Regions from separate parts of the Homo sapiens genome. Here region 2 is linked to region 1. The links come from fine-mapping of genetic effects on gene expression. A gene starts in region 1. The other region holds a variant in brackets. All regions are shown on one strand. Distances are from middle to middle.

Region 1 (5,338 bases):
GGCACAGCAGATCACGGTCAATCTTCTGCTTGGTGACCAGCAGGCCAGAGCTGGGATTGATGTCCACTAGGTGTGGAGCCGAGTTGGACACCACGCGAAAGGCTGAAGCCTGCCGGGGGTCCAGCGCGAAGCCCGCCTCTCGCGCGTCTTTGGCCACGTTGGCAATCACCGTCCCGGCGCGCTGCTCCTCTTCTACCGAGTACTTGAGATTAATGAGGGCGGCAGCCTGCGTCCACAGTATGGCCAGCAGCAGCAGCACCGGCAGCAGGAGCGACTCCATGGCTGCACGGGGCTCTGCCTGGCCTCGCCTCTCCACACCCCTCCGAGACCGACGCCGTCGGCGCTCCAGCTTCCCGCCGGCTCGGGCCGCCTGTTGCGCGCGCCCCGTGGCCCCGGAGGCCGCGGGAGAAGTCCCGCCCAGGGCGGCCCGGCGGCGCGCGGGGGACACCCGCGGCGGCTCCAATGCTGAGGTTGCGGCGGACGCGGCGGGGGCTCGCGGGGGCCCCGGGGGCTCCGAGGGGCCAAGGGAGCGCCGCGCGGCCCCGAGCCCCCTCCCTCCAGCCCGGCTACTCAGTTTTACCCCTTCAAAGTTAGCCGGGCGCGACTGTCGGCAGCCGCCCAGGGCTGCGGGTCGGGCGGCGTCTGCGCGGCCTGGAGGACGCACCGCTGAGTCCGGACAGTACTTGAGGCGAAGGTAAAGAGGGCGGAGGAGGCGCAGCCTTTCAGGCACTGCCCGGCCCGCCGCGGTGCACCGGCACTGAGGCTGGCGAACTCGCTGTCTGTGCACCTGGCATGCGCAAAGACCTCCCCCCAGCGCTCCCAGTTCACTGCGGAGAGAGTACCCGCTTGGAATGCGCCCTCCGGGGTCTGGGGGGGCCACACTGGCCTCTTCGAGGCCTGTTCGGGAGAAAGGGGGTGTCGCAGACGGGAGTCAGTTACTGGCAAGCGCCGCGGGCACCCGGTTATAGGGTTGAGTCGGATGGCGGTCCCGGGGCCAGCAGAGGAAGGGGGAGGGGAGAGAGGCTGCCAGAGCTTGAGCGCGCTCCCTCGCGCTAAGGCTGGCTTCGAAGGGCTTGGGGGCGCGTCTGTCCAGGATCCGAGGTGGGAGCGGAGTTCCCCCCACAGAGCAGTTGAGGGTCTGCGGGCGTTTTCGTCTAGGAAATCAAAGTTAACAACGCAGTCCGACCCTCCACGTCAAGTTTGTGGAAACGGGGAGATGGCAATTTGTCCAAGAAAATCAAAGCCCCGGTCTTTCTAATGGCCGGGGGTGGCGGGGAATGGGGAAGAGGGAAGGGGAGGCAACAACAGTACCGGCCAGGAGAGGCGGGGCCGCCGCCGTGGGTACCGGGTGCTTCTCTTCTCTCCGTTTGGGCTGGGGTGTCGCTCCAAGGTCCGCCGCCGCCGCCGCCGCCGCCGCCGCCGCGGGAGGAAGCCCTCCTAGCTCAGTTGCACGTCGCTGGGGTCCGCCTCAGCAGCTGCCACAGTCGACGATTTTGTCGCCGCCGAAGTTTACTTGCAGGAGCGTCTTGATTTCATCTTCCCGGAGAGGCGCTGGCCGCGCTGCGTTGGGCTCCCTTCCTCCCGGGCGCTCGCGCACTCGGGAGGTCTGTCTCGCTTTCTCTGTCTGTCTCGGGCTGTGTGTGAATGTGTGAGAGAGAGAGGAAGAGTGAGTGTGTGGTGTGGGGAGTGTGAGTGTGGAGTATGAGCAAGCAGGAGGCAATGGGTTTGGGGTAGGAGGTTTAGGATTTCGGATGAAATCGCTCAGCCGGAATGCTGCGGAGCGCAACGCGCCAAGGGCCAGCGCCGGGCTAGGGACGCGGGTGCCAGTGCCTCCCGGGCAAGCCAGGCATGGTGCACGGGAGCTGTGCTGCCGTCTGTGCCCGCTCGTCCGTCTCCGCGCTGCGCCAGCCGCCGCCGCTACTGCTGCTGCTGCTCCTCCGGATGCCGCAAACTACTGGCCGCGGAGTCTGGAGAAAGCCGGAGAAAGCTCAAGCTGCCGAGCCCGGCTACGCCAGGCCCTGGCCAATCAGCGCGCCGCCAGCGGGCTCCAGTCTTGGGGCGGGGCCAAGCGGAGGCGGGGGGTAGCGGGGGGGCGGGGCCAAGCGGAAACTTCACACCGGCGGGACCAAGTGGTACCCCGGCCCATGGAGCCCTGGCGGGATTCATGGGAGGACGGACAGACAGGCCAGGCAGGCCAGGCAGGAGCAATAGGGCAGGAATGAGCAGGGAGGCGGTGTGCTGGCGCTGCGGCTGAGCCTCGCCGGGAACTGTGCGCTTCTCATGTTTGCAGAGATTTCAGGAAAGATGAGGATGATATGATTGTCTTATCGTGTTTACCTCCCTTACATATCTTCATATCTTGAATATAATATATACATATATATACACATATATATATATATACACACATATATATATCCCTCTATTTCTCCTTGTCTCTTCACCCTAAAAAATCGTCTGTTTTTGTTTTCCTCTCTTCTCATTCTCTGGTAGTGGAAGGAAGAAAGGGAAGGAGAAAGCGCCCCTGAGGTGGTCATTCATCCAGCTCTTAGCCGGTGTGTCTTCACATCAGGCCAGAGCCACGGCCGCCACCCCCCCGGACCGTCACCCCCATCCTTCCACCCCGGGCAGACGCCGCACTACTCTCTGCGTGCCGCACTCCCAGCAGGGCCCCTGGATCGGTTCGCTCTTGTCTGTTGCTTGTTAATCAAATGGGATATGTGGCACAGAGAATGAGCTACGGAGGGGGCCGGACACATTTCATTGCCCCTCACCCCACCCTGTTGGAGAATTTAGCTCCCTATAAATAAACTGTACGTTTGAGAAGAGCCGGTGGAGCGGACGCCGCCGCGCCGCGCCAAGCCAGCAGAGCTCAAAGCCGGGCAGGAGCTCTGGGGCGGGCACGCCATACATGTCCGCTTAGGTCGCCGACAGCTGGGAGCCGGCGCCGATGTGCAGGGCGCCCCAGCCTTCCCGCGGGGTCTCGGTCCCAGGGGGCTGCCAGCTCCACTTGGGCGGCGGTGGTGGCTGCGGCATGTGCCAGTACTGGGAAGCGGGAGGCCGGCGTGGCCAGGGCTGACATCAAGCTCATCCTGCCTTCTGCACTGAAGGCTCCCTGGGGGCAGCGGGGCATTCCTCCCCACCCGGGCTCTGAGGCTTTTAATTAAGGTCGCCAGCGGCAAAAAAATCAAAAACGTGCCCGTTAAACAAGTTTTTTTTTCTCTTAGAATGTGGGGAAGCTGCTTCTGAATTCACAATTCTTGGAAGAGTAAAAATGTCTTCTGAGTGAGTCGTCTCGGATATTTGGGAGTGGGATAAGCAGACTCATAATTAGCCCAGCGACATTGGCTCGAGCCTGTGGGCTTCACATGAGCGTCATTTTTGCCCTCTAAAAAGCGTTAAACAAGAAAAGGAAACCGGCATTTGGACACATAATGGGTTTTCTCAAAACTGCCATCTTCTTGTGGAGAGCAACCCAGCTGCTTTTTAAAATATTTTTCCTTCCAAGAAGAGCTACTTTAGCAGCCTTTACCTTGGCGGTGGGAGAGGGGAAAGGCGGCTTCCTCTTACAGAAAGAAATTATTTCGCGAGTGAGATTGCGATCCCCTGAATATGTAGCCGAGGCCAAAGGGAGAGCGTAGGGAGCCTGATCCGCTTTCCGCGTGGGGGTCGTTTCACTGTTTCACGTTAGGATGTGATTCGGCCCAGAACAACAGGGAGAAAACCGATGCTTCTGCAATGAGTATCATTTAATTTTGGTCATTTAGAGCTGCGGGTGGACACCAGAGTGGTGGCTCAAGGGAGCCCGGTGGCCCGACCGGTTTTCTCCAGACACCGTTGGAGAAATGGGCAAGTAGTAGAGAATGACAACATGGCAGGCAGCGGTGGGCGCACCTCGCGGGCTCCGCGAAAGGAAGGGTTCCATTTGATTTATCACAGTTATTTACCTTTGATGTCAGAGCATGGGAATGAAGTGCATCTTGGTCTAATTAAAAAGGCCTAAAAAGGCATTTGAAATGGGTTTGCTATCTGATCACGGGATGTGAATTCGGCGTTTGGCAGCTTTCTAAAATATTGCTTGGACTATTTAAACAGAACAATTAGCAGCATGCTAAAATGTTTGCATGCTATGCTTAGAAGCTTTTAGCTGTAAACTTTAAGGCGATCTGTTCCCCCTTTAAGTTAAAAAAGGATGATGCTGCTTCCTTGTGGCGAAGGCTGTCAGGAACCCACTGATCAATAAAAGTAAACTGGCGCCTCCACGGCTTGATTGAGCGGGAGCAAAGAGTCTGAGAAGTAGTCTCGGCCATTAACAATCCCCCAGGTAACGAGAAATGGAAGAATTACTCAGGTAAAATGATTAACATTGTCGTAGCATCTGAAAAGATGCACACAACAAGATAAGAAGACTGCAGACCTCTTACCTTAGGGAGTGCTAATAGAATGTCTATATTCTGCTGTCTTTTAAAGATAAATAGGAGAATTCAATTCATGTACAATGTCATTACCTTCATAATTGCAATCACAATGTAAAGACATGTTCTGCATTTGCAAAGACAAACCCTCTTTGCTAAGGCGATGCCACCGTGTTCCCTGCTTCCTGCTCGCTGTTCACACTCCAGGCACCCCTCTTTTCCAAGGAGAGCATCCAAGTACTTCCAGCTACCAAACCACTTTTACACAAGCCAGGTGCTAAGGGAGGCAGGGGCGTGTGCCTATGCTTTCCTTCTTTCCTATTATCTCCTCCCCACCCCTAATCTCAAAGTGACAGTTACACAGCCTTCCCCATCCCCACACACAAAATAGCTCTTCCATCCCCCAGTCTATTTCTACAGATAATCCTAACAACAGCCTTTGCCCTCAGAATTTCTTTTTTTCTAATAGGCACACTCGATCATTATACTCCAAGAATGCCATTGACTAAATGAGTAGCCCAAAACACTTTCATGATCAGGAATTTATTAACTAACTGAATAAAATCGTTCTGCATGTAGATAATAAAAACAAGAAAGTTCTCTCCGTTTTAGCTTCCCTTTACTTCAATCCTGAAGGGAGCCCCGCCTCCTCAGCCTCTTTAGAGACACAAGAGGGACATCTAGTGACCATCCTCAGTATTTTTTAATCCAACAGCTACTAAGAAATACTAATACTAATGGTGCTATGCCGCCTACGGCTGCTCTCCAGGTCAAAGCAGCTCCACTGAGGCCAGAATCAAAATTGGCAAAGAGAATTTTTTTTGTCTTTAAAATGTCATCCATGCCACTAAAATCATGCTGAATGGCAATAAAAGAGGACCAAAATGGGAGAAATCTTACTTTTAGATCAAACCAGTATGTGA
Region 2 (5,372 bases), 240 kb after region 1:
ATATGGGGCCCAGCTGGCATTCCAAGTGCTAAGAATATTCTGTGGCCTGCAGTGTCTGCCCTCACAGGGGCCCGTGGGGAGTAGTGGGGGAAGGAGACAGACCCAACCAATGGGGTTAGGAAAATATCCAGAGATGAGTAAATAACAAACTGCTCCCATCACAGCCACAGTCCCTGCAGCTAAAATTTTCCACATGCCCTTAGCTCCTGGTGGAGGCCTTTGGCAGTAGCTCTGTTTGTCTGGAACAGCTGCATCAAGCTTTCAAACAAATATGCAAACTTCTTCCCCTTTTTGGCTTAACCTGGCTTTGTAGGGGGTGAAGCACAAGGACTGACATTGAGATGAAAAAATTCAAGTCAAGCCCTTGGCAGAGCATATCCTGTTTGGGGTTAAAGGTGCCTCAAGTCTCCAGGAGATAAATATGCAACTGTCCTCCCCAACCTCCCCTTGCTTCAGTTCATTTACAGAGACCAAAATCCAGCCAAAGACCACAGGACTAAAGGAGTGGAGATTAGATGGCTCGAAGCCCAATTCTGAACACCTGTATGAAACCTCATGGCATGCAAAGGTCTTTACCTTTCCCAAAACAGAAGCCTGAGCTGTTGGAGGCGTGAGCACAGAGCAGTTTTTTAAAAGTTAGATTCAGTTGAGGTTCTCAAAGGGCTATTTGCAAAGGTGGAACACCCCACTTCCACGTGAATCACAAGTCACCACTCCTGAGAAGCTCAGATTGGTGAGGCCTCTGCCAGCCCTGCAATTCCACTCATTCTTCCCTCTTCTATCCTTAGGAGGCCACATGATGAGAGACATTTCCCCTACACTGCTAGCTCAGCTGTTGGGCTTGCCTTCATGCCTTTGTTCATTCATTCCTTCAACAAATATTTATTGAGGACTCTTTATGCATCCAGGACAGTTTTGTTTACTTGTACAGCCTTGTCTTCAAATGGGCATGGCACAGAATAGCAGCCAAATGTGGATCCAGGGCTAATCAGAAAAAGGGTCCAGGAATAATCAGCAGTGGCTGGGAAAAGTTAAGAATATAAATAAAGCAAAGAATGGGTTAAAAGTGTGTTCTGGCATATCTGTGCAGCCCAGAAAGTCAGACTGTATTTGTCATCATAAGCCAAGGATTAATATGAATCTTAAGATAGTCTTTTAACTATCAATTACATGTCTAACTATACTTTTGTGAAGGGCAGTGCTTAGAGGGCCTGACTGTACTATGGAGGTTGGAGGAACCCAGTAACAGACCACACAGTAACCAAGCACTGATTGATCTAAAGGAACTGAGGAATGCTCCCCAAGTCCTTCCCCCAGGGCTGAAGAGGGACAAGCAGACAGAATAATGTAGGAAATGTTCCCCTTTAATTTCATTCTTATACCCATCTTAGTATTCCACCATTTGCAAAAAAGAAAAAAAACTCAAAGATAGGCAAAGAGGGGAAATGGGAAAATGGAAAGGTTTAAAGTGGCAAGATGGTCTGAACCCTTTCTCCACACAAAGCATAGTTGGCACTGGTCCAGCTACTTCCGCACCCTGATGGAGACTGTAATTATCTTATTGAGTCTTCCCCACAGTTTTCCTACATCCCTTGTAATTCTGGAATGATGTAAAATGCTTGGTGGCCTTCGATCCCACACACACAGTAAAAAAGCTGGATTGCAAAAGAGATTTTGGACTTTTACCCCAGTTGGACATTATCAAAAGCTCTTCCCTAATCACCATCTTCAGTGGAGTGTCTGAGTTTGGTATCTAGGGGGTCAAGCAGACCTGGGCTGGAATGCCCACTCTGCTGCTTACTAGCTGGGAGACCTTGGTTCTCTTGGTTCCTCAAGCCTGTTTCTTCGGCTTTATATTGGAGCACATTAGTAGTACCTACCCTGCTGACATGTTATGGTGACATAATGAACTAACATATGTAATGTGCTTAACACAGAATATGAGCTGAGAGATGTTAGCAGTCATTGTCGTAGTTGTTCTTGTTGTTGTTACTGTTACCAAGCCACAGGGCTCTGACACTCCTGACACTCCTGTTTTCTCTTCTGTTAAACAGTCCTTTGCTCCCTGCTGAGCATGTCTTCAAAAGCTGGCTCTGTAACCGGAGCAGGAAGACCTAATACTTTAGGGAATCACCCACATCTGGCCTCCTGTTTACAGGACCTATAAAGCTTTGAGGCTAATACTGAACTGAAACAGCTGACAAAAATTCCATGACCCGCCCCCCGACTCCCCCGCACCCACCAAAGAAACCTCCCATTATGGGAAAAAAGAGAGCAGGGGAGATGAGGTCTGAGAAGAAATCAACGGAAGCCAGAAGAAGAACTGAAATGGGAAAACAGAAAAAAAGAAAAAGGGGAAAAAGAAAAAATGAACTCTTTCCTCTGGAATGAGGGCAAACCAACGAGGACATGATTTCATAAGGCAAACTTTCAATTGATTCATTCCCTTGTTCACCAAGTTGGACTGGTTTCCCAATACCTCACCTCCCCCACCCCTAGTCTGGGCCTGTGGGGAATGGAGGAGCTTCATCATCTGGCCCTCTGCTCCGCCCTTCAGTGCAGGGGGCCCTGTGCCTCTTCCCAAGAGGAGGAGGCGAGCTTGTGGCCTGAGTATTTACACAGGCCAAAGGGCTCCAGCACTAAAACCCAGCCCTGTCCTGGAAGCACACCCTCTCCTGGAAATAGGGAATTGTCTCTTGACTCCAAAACAGCTGGCTACCCTATTCCTGTGC[A/G]TGCATTAGGGCTCAGGGAGGCTGGAAGGAGGGCTTCCGGAAACTTCACTCCGGAAAGGACCAAGTTGTTTTCCAATTAGTTCGTATTCATGACCGATTTCCTGCCGTCTGGTGGAACATACTGTTTAGTCTCCCAGACAGCCGCAGACCTGCCTCCACTAGGGACTGGGCCACTTAACTGGATGGAGATAGATTAGGAATGTTCTCTAGCTCAGCAGCTCCCTGTTAAAGTTCCTTCTGATTAGAGAAACAGGAAATTTATCCGAAGGACTCTGCCTTCTCTGTTCTCCAAACCAGGGCAAAGTGCTCACAAAACTGCTTTCATTTCCTCTTGCCTTTTAAGTCATCCCTCTCGGCCTTGGCATGCCACCCCCAGCAATGGTAATCCGGTAATCCGATGACAAAAAGGCCTGTGCCCTGTGGGCTAGTGGAAGCCTGAGTAATTGTTTTTTTTTGAGGACCATAAGCAGGGCTGTCACTAGGGGGAAGACACAGGTTCTGTTTTTGCCTCCTATCAGGGACCACAGTCCATTCTCAGAGATTAGTCCCCAGTGTCTTACCAAGACTCATGTGTTGCTTCAAGGAAATGGGTCATTTATAGTCCAGATTGACAGGATTGATGTATGGTCAGGTTCAATTTTTTTCTTTTAGATGGAGTCTTCCAGTGCTCGCAGTAACTGGCCACCACAACTATGAGCCTGCCCTCTATGCAACTGAGGTGCTGAGATTCACCCACAGTAGTTCTGCTGCCTTACAATGCAGGATTTCCCCCACTAAATATCCACCTGGCTCCCCACCCATGGAATGCCATGTCCTAAGGAAGTGACAAAGTTGGATGAGAGGGGGAAGGTTGGGAAGGAATTGAGTGAGAAATCAAGACACCATTTTGATATTGTCTTCCTTATTCTAGGTTCTGGCTACTATCCGGATGAAAGCTACAATGAAGTATATGCAGAGGAGGTCCCACAGGCTCCTGCCCTGGACTACCGAGGTAATCTACCCTGCTTCTCAAGCCCAGAAAATCTCTTTTCTGGCCTCAGACCTAGGCCCTTCCCTGAAGCATCCCCATCAGGCTTGGCTCACATGTGTCAAAACTGTAGCACAGGGAATCAGGGGCTGTGATTTCTCATCATGAACTTGGTTACTGACTTACTGTGTGACCTCACCTCTCCAGCCTGAAGGTTCTCCATGTATTATTAATCATTAAGTATTGACTAGTTACTCAATGCCTAATCCTGTGCAAGGTAAGCCTGTGGGTAATACAAGGTCTCAGATAGGGTTTTGTCCCCATCATGTAGCTTATATTCTGTTGGGGGTGATGGGGGGGTATAAAGTTAGCACATGTAGGGCAAGTAAGTGTGAAGCTATGTCATAGCAGTAAATGCAATAGGGTTTAAGAAAAAGAAGTCAGGAAAAGGGTCATGAAAGATGACATTTAGGCTAAGCTTAGAATGATAGGTGGGATTTTGAGAACCAGAAAGGGGAGGGGAGAGCATTCAGCAAAGCAGATGGCTAAAAATACGGAAGTAAGAACAAACCTGGTAGAGGAGGGAGCTAAGAAGAAACCAGCCTGATTGGAGGAAATGGAATATGGAGGGAGTAGTATCAAAGAAGGTTAAATATAGGCCAAGTGCAGTGGCTCATGCTTGTAAACCCAGCATTTTGGGAGGCCGAGATAGGTGGATCACTTGAGGTCAGGAGTTCGAGACCAGCCTGGCGAATATGGTGAAACCTCATCTCCAACAAAACTACAAAAAATTAGCCAGGCATGGTGGCATGTGCCTATAATCCCAGCTACTCAGGTGGCTGAAGCAGGAGAATCACTTGAACCTGGGAGGTGGAGGTTGCAGTGAGCCGAGAGCTGAGATGGCACCACTGCTCTCCAGCCTGGGTGACAAAGCAAGGCTCTGTCTCAAAAAAAAAAAAAAAAAAAAGTTAAATATAAAGAGTGAGACCAAATTAGGAAAGACTCCATGATCTAGGGACAATACTAATGAGAAGCATGAAAATTATCTGTGATGAATGCTGCATAGTGAGTAATTCCTGCATTAAAAGGGAAGTTAGGCCAGGTGGTATCTAATATCCCTTCTATTTCTGATTCTTTGTTTCTTTGCTTTGCAAGCCATGTGGAAGAGTTTAGCTGTTGTACTAGGATCTATAGGGAGCCCATCACATGTTTTTGCACAGAGGCATGACACAGTAAATTGTCATTTTAGAACATTAACCTGATTATTCTATGCAGAAATAGGGGTTCAGTGGTTAAGTCTGAGTCAGGGAGACTCTCCAGGAACCAGCTACAGTAATGTTGGCTAGAGATGACTGATGGTGGTGGCAAAGAAATGGAGGGTACAGATGAACCCCATAAATGTTTCAAAGAAAGAGATGACAAGACTTAGTACAGACTTGATGTACCAAGAGGCTAAGAAACAAACTGATGTCTGAAAGCACTCAGTCTGTACACCTGGAAGAAATAAGACCCCTCTCAGAAAGACAATGTCAAAAAAGAAAACTGGTTTGGTAAAGATGCCCTACAGGCGGCGGAAGGATGAAGTTGTGTGAGTCATCAGCTTAGATAGATGGGTTGTCTGAGGGAGCAGAAGGCCAGGGTCAGAGCTTTAGAAGACATCTGTAGACATGAGT

Direction of the effects. Alleles are on the strand shown, and positions count from the first base shown. SD is a standard deviation of normalised expression in the study named.
For the expression in visceral fat of the gene that starts at base 1,956 in region 1, allele G in region 2 goes with a higher level than allele A (small effect, 0.22 SD a copy in GTEx).

Evidence for each region. PIP is the estimated chance that this variant, and not a neighbour inherited with it, causes the effect.
Region 2: its variant is fine-mapped to the expression of PCDH19 in visceral fat (GTEx, PIP above 0.99). The same link has a PIP of 0.9 or more in atrial appendage, breast, esophagus muscle, gastroesophageal junction, ileum and left ventricle.

The regions. Positions count from the first base shown.
Region 1 is chrX:100,408,318-100,413,655 of GRCh38, forward strand. It overlaps PCDH19 (protocadherin 19), which reads right to left and starts at 1,956. Exons shown (of 6, transcript NM_001184880.2): 1 at 1-1,956. The coding sequence starts at 280.
Region 2 is chrX:100,647,143-100,652,514 of GRCh38, forward strand. It overlaps SRPX2 (sushi repeat containing protein X-linked 2), which reads left to right. Exons shown (of 11, transcript NM_014467.3): 3 at 3,643-3,723. Among named protein-coding and RNA genes, the nearest start is that of SRPX2, 5.6 kb to the left of the region's middle. RefSeq lists an enhancer at 50-344 and a silencer at 2,710-3,004. The variant A/G (reference allele first, on the strand shown) is at 2,733.